2 separate regions of the Homo sapiens genome follow, and region 2 is linked to region 1. The links come from fine-mapping of genetic effects on gene expression. A gene starts in region 1. The other region holds a variant in brackets. All regions are shown on one strand. Distances are from middle to middle. Region 1 holds the start of GPR108 (G protein-coupled receptor 108). Region 2 holds the start of ACER1 (alkaline ceramidase 1).

Evidence for each region.
Region 2: its variant is fine-mapped to the expression of GPR108 in adrenal gland (GTEx, PIP above 0.99).

Annotation. Positions count from the first base shown.
Region 1 is chr19:6,735,971-6,738,877 of GRCh38, forward strand. GPR108 (G protein-coupled receptor 108) reads right to left here and starts at 1,610. Exons shown (of 18, transcript NM_001080452.2): 1 at 1,487-1,610; 2 at 622-741. The coding sequence starts at 1,606. It overlaps MIR6791 (microRNA 6791), which reads right to left and starts at 808; the gene lies at 742-808. RefSeq lists silencers at 425-579, 945-1,106, 1,255-1,424, 1,525-1,584 and enhancers at 485-634, 2,075-2,134, 2,267-2,907.
Region 2 is chr19:6,330,977-6,333,883 of GRCh38, forward strand. ACER1 (alkaline ceramidase 1) reads right to left here and starts at 2,636. Exons shown (of 6, transcript NM_133492.3): 1 at 2,483-2,636. The coding sequence starts at 2,575. The variant G/A (reference allele first, on the strand shown) is at 1,040.

The sequences.
Region 1 (2,907 bases):
AAAAAAAAGGGGAGGGTGTGAGGGACAGTAGAGACCTCCCAGCTATCCCTTTCAGTAGCAATAGAAACCTAACCTCACATTTACTGAACACCTAACATGTGCTAGATCCCACACGCTCTTTTTCTTTTTTAGAGTTGGGGTGGTGGGTGGACCTCATTCTGTTTCTCAAGCTGGAATACAGTGGCAGGATCATAGCTCACTACAGCCTCGAACTCCCAGGTTCAAACGATCCTCTCACCTCGGCCTCCCGACTGGCTGGGACTACAGGCACACCTCACCACGCCCGGCTAATTTTAAAAACTTTTTGTAGAGACGGGGTTCTCACTATGTTGCCCAGGCTGGTCTTGAACTCCTGGCCTCAGGCAATCCTCCCACCTTGGCCTCCCAAAGTGCTAGGACTACAAAGCCTGAGCCACCGCGCCCCGCCTGTCCCCCAAGTCTTAAGAAAAGTGCCTAGCACATCCTGTGTAAGACATCATTACTCCCAGGTACAGATGACGAAACAGGCTCAGAGAGATGACGGGACTTGTACAAGATCACATGGGTAGCGGCAGAGCTGGGAACCCAGAACCGGGGGATTGCACCGTGCTCTCCTCCAGCAAACTCCTCAAGGTCCCTCACCAGCAGGGACTTCTCTTCTGCCTCCCGGAGGCCCAGCCGCAGGACGCTCAACTCCACCTCCAGAGAGCCATTGGTGTAGAAACCGAAGCTGTTCAGCTGGATGTCCGCTCGCTTCTCCCCCTGCCGGAGACCAAGGAGGCAGAGGCAGTTCAGACCTCTTTCCGCCTGCCCAGCCCCAGGGGTCTGGCACGAGGACCTCCAGAAGGGCCTCCTGGTACCCCTCTATTTAGGACAGGCCCAGAGGATGACAAGAGAAAGTTGAGAGGGACTTCCTCCCTGCAGGGGAAGGGTGGTCCTGCATTCTCCGACCTCTGTTCTGAGAACCCAGGAACAGAGATCCTGCGGCACCTGGAAGTCTCCCCACTGGGGTGAGCACCGCCCGGAGAACAGTTATTCACCTCGGCGTGCCTGACCTTCACCTTCCCGAAGAACTTTTACATTCCAGTTGAGCTCCCAGCAATATTTCAACAGAACCCCCCAAATCCCATTAAGTGCCCAGAGGACCCCACTCTATAGCCCCCCAGGACCCCGCTGTGCGGCTCCAGGGTCTCTAGCGCCCCAAAAGTGATTCCAAGAATTTAAAGGACTAAGACCCAGTTGGGGGGAAGGGGGGTGTAGTCCCCAAGAGATGGAGCCTCGCCCCCGAAGGGAGGGGGCCGACCCCAGCGAGGCGGACCCGGCAACTCCATCCGGAGGACCGAAGGGGATCCCGGGACGAGACCACTCCGGGCCCGGAAACGGGGGGCGCCGGACCACTCCACCGCCTCGGGGACGGGGGAGGGCGGACGAGACCACTCCAAGCCAGGGGGCTTCTCCGAGACAAAGTTGCGCCACCGACCCCAGACCCTCGCGCGGCGGGCCTCACCGTCAGCGCCAGCTGGTGGATGCGCCCGGAGCAGCCACCCAGCAGCAGCACCAGAAGTAGCCGCTGCCCCCACTCCGCGGGGCTCCCGCGGCCGAGCCCCCTCCTCTCGCTCACTGCCATCTCTGGAGCCACCTCCTCCCCGACTCCGCCTCTGGCGCCCAAGCCCGCCCACCGATGAGCCAATCGCCGCACGGCGGGGCCCGGCCTTTCGGAGTTTCCAGTCCGCCAACCAATCAGCAATTGCCTCTCCGCAAGCCCGCCTGCTTGCGTCACCGACGGACAGCACCGGTTCCGAATGGGAGAGCCGATAACGCTTAACCCCCAGCTCACTCTCACCAATCGCTATAAAGATTGTCCGGATGTGATTTAATGAGCAGTTTATCTAACCAATTGTCATGGATCTGATATCCGGCCCTTAAAGCGGAATTTCTCCACCCACTCTTAACTGTCCGGGACTACATTACCCAGAATGCAGCGGGAGCAGACAAGGGCCACAAAGCATTAAATAAACTACCTTTCCCAGTATCCCCAAGGACGGACTTCCTCTTCTTGAGCCAGGGATGTGGCTCCCAGCCAGAGCTGAGGCTTTTGGTAAACACACGCATCTGTTCAGGCCTGACCTGTTTTCCTAATCTTCCTGGTCCACAGAGAGGCCTAAAGCTGGCCTCAGGTTAAAGTTTGACCCTAGGATGACCTATGACCCCAGGCTGAGACCCCAGCCTTAGGCTAAGCCTTTTATTCCAGAGTGAGGCAATTGGAGCCCCACCCCCAGATTCCAGGCTAGACCGGACTCCGGGCTGAACTCTGACCCCAGGTGAACTCCCTCTCTGCAAGTTGAGTCCTAACTTCAGCCTGAAACTCTGACACCCCCTCGTCCCCCACACCACACACTGAGGCTTAATCTCTGGTTTAGGCCACCGATCTGGACTAGCCCTGACTCCAGATTGGACCTGACCCCTTACCGGGTTGCTAATCCTTCTGGTTAAGCCTCTGGCCTCTATCCCCTATCCCCACGGTGGTGCTGACCTGGACTGAACCCCAATTCCAGTTTGAGTCTCTGAGCAGAGGTGAACTCAGAACTTTGCTAGGCTGAGCCCCCATTTGAGACTAGCCACAGAACTCACTGGGTTCAATTGCCCAACTGCAATCAGACATTTTCTAGCTCAGAAGCCACCAGCAGGTGGGGCCAGGTCTCAGCAGAGACATCAGTCCCAGTGTGGGCTCCCAAGGCTCTCCTCCTGGGCTCAGCTGTATCTCTCTGTTCTGGGAGCCTGGGTGCTCTGTGTAAGGGGAACGTATACCCAAGGGCCCCCCTGCAAGACGCCCAGCCTTGTCTGAGGCTGCAGAGAAAGCGCCAAAGCCCGGAGAGAATGGGAGTGGGAATCCCCAGTGCCTCCTCTCCTCTTTCATTCCAGCACCTC
Region 2 (2,907 bases), 400 kb before region 1:
TAACCAGGGTGACCCTGGGCACAGCCTTCAAACTCCTTGAACACCTGTTTTATCACCTGGAAAATGGGATGAAGTCTGTATCATATAGATTGCATCTAACTCCCCATGTCACTGTGCAGATTAAAGGAGGTGTTTCACGTAAAATGTTTAGGGTCATGCCTGGTACACAGCAAGCACTTTTTTTTTTTTTTTGAGATGAGGTCTCGCTCTGTCACCAGGCTGGAGTGCAGTGACACAATCTTGGCTCACTGCAACCTCTGCCTCCCGGGTTCAAGTGATTCTCCTGCCTTAGCCTCCTGAGTAGCTGGGACTACAGGCGCCCGGCACCATGCCTGGCTAATTTTTTGTATTTTTAGCACAGACGGCATTTCACCACGTTGGCCAGGATGGTCTTGACCTCTTGACCTCATGATCCACCCCCCTCGGCCTCCCAAAGTGCTGGGATTACAGGCGTGAGCCATAGCACCCAGCCAGCAAGCACTCTTCTGCTCACTGAGCAAGGCCTATGTGCAGGGCATAGAACTAAGCACTACGAGGCCGGGCGCCGTGGCTCACGCCTGTAATCCCAGCACTTTGGGAGGCTGAGGTGGGCGGATCACCTGAGGTCGGGAGTTCAAGACCAGCCTGGCCAACATGGTGAAACCCTGTCTCTACTAAAAATACAAAAATTAGCCAGGCGTGGTGGTGGGAACCTGTTATCCCAACTACTCGGGAAGCTGAGGCAGCAGAATGGCTTGAACGCGGGAGGCAGAGGTTGCAGTGAGCCGAGATCGCGCCATTACATTCCAGCCTAGGTGACAAAGCGAGACTCCGTTTCAAAACAAACAAACAAACAAACAAAAGAACTAAGCACTATGCCTGGATCCCATCATTCCCAGGGCTCCAGGCAAACACCTCTGTGTTCCCAGCACCCAGTATGGGCATGGCATAGCTGCACTGATCTTTGGCTTTAAGCTTTGGCTAAATGCCGTGATCATTTGTGCATTCCTATTTTTTTTTTTTTTTTTGAGACGAAGTCTCGCTCTTGTCCCTCAGGCTG[G/A]AGTGCAATGGTGCGATCTCGGCTCATTGAAACCTCCGCCTCCTGGGTTCAAGCCATTCTCTTGCCTCAGCCTCCCAAGCAGCTGGGATTACAGGTGCCTGCCACCAAACCTGGCTAATTTTTGTATTTTTAGTAGAGATGGGGTTTCACCATGTTGGCCAGGCTGGTCTCGAACTCCTGACCTCAGGTGATCCACTCACCTTGGCCTCGCAAAGTGCTGTGATTACAGGCGTGAGCCTCCGCGCCCGGCCTTTTTTTTTTTTTTTTTTTTTTGAGACAGGGTCTCCCTCTGTCACCCAGGCTGGAGTGCAGTGGTATGACCTCAGCTCACTGCATCCTCCACTTCTTGGGTTCAAGAAATCCTCCCCCCTCAGCCTCCCAAGTAGCTGGAACTACAAGCACACACCACCACACCCAGCTAATTTTTAAAAACTTTTTGTAGAGACAGGGTCTTGCTATGTTGCCCAGGCTGGTCTGGAACTCCTGGGCTCAAGCGATCTTCCTGCCTCTGCGTTCCAAATTGCTGGGGTTACAGGCATGAGCCATGGTGCTAGGTACATCCATGATTTTTTAGCACTTCCCATGTGGTGTTTTAACAGGGAAAGAGAAGACCACCTCAGAATGTCCAGAACTGAGGAGTTTCTCAGGAGGTGGGACTTTTTTTCTTCTTTTTTTGAGACAGTCTCGCTTTTTCACCCAGGCTGGAGTGCAGTGGCACAATCTCAGCTCACTGCAACCTCCGCCTCCTGGGTTCAAGCGATTCTCATGCCGTAGCCTCCTGAGTAGCTTGGACTACAGATGCCTGACACCGTACCCAGCTAATTTTTTATTTTAGTAGAGATGGGCTTTCACCACGTTGCCCAGGGCGATCTCCAACTCCTGAGCTCAGGCAATCCACCCACCTTGGCCTTCCAAAGTGCTAGGATTACAGACGTGAGCCACCGCGCCCAGCCAAGAGGTGAAACTTTTTAAATACTGAAACCAGGATAGTCCCAGGCACACTGGGACAAGTTGGTCAGTGGGTACAGCTGCAAACAAGACAGACACAATCACCTCTTCCAGGAAGCCTTTCCTGATTGGCCCACCCCCTCTAGCTCAGGGGCACCCTCTGCCTCCCCCTACCACAGCTGCCTCTGTGCCCTCCAAGAAGGCACCATCGCTCCCGGTTGCAAATGCCTGCAGTCACATCAGAGTTAGCTTAGGGAAGGCAGAGACCGGTTCTTTTCCTGGCCACCAATGTGTCTCCAAAACCTACCACAGAGCTTGGCATCAAGTAAAGACAAGTAAATGAATGAAAGCTGGCACTCTTTGGCTAACAGATGAGAAAACTAGGGCTGAGACAGGTGAACCACTCCAGCAAGATTCCCCAGTAAGGCTGTATGGGGAGGAACCGGGATTCGAACCGGCATCTGGCGAGACTCCTTCACACACCCACGCACTCACCGTGTTGTAGAACTCGGCCACCAGCTCCGAGTACTGGAAGTTGCTCTCACACCAGTCCACCTCGGAGCTCTGATAGGCGAAGATGCTAGGCATCTTGTCTCAGTGGCCACCACCAGCCGGCTGCGCCCGGCAGAGAGAAGGCGAGCTTGGGAAGGCTGGGCCCTGATGAGGCGGGGAGAGGACAGCCCGGTGCCCCGCGGCAGGCAGACTGGGAGGAAAAACCTGCTGGGCCGCTCCCCAGTTGCACCAGGGCAGCCTGGCTGTGCAGTGACAGCAGCCCTGAGCATAAGCCGTGGGACTGGCACTGTCCAGGCAGGGCAGGGGGCAGAAGTAGGCAGGGAAGAGGCCTCCCATCCAGATTACCCAGGAATAGGAATCGGGGTGGGGGCAGTGGAGGGAACTGTTTTTATCTTTTATGTATGTAT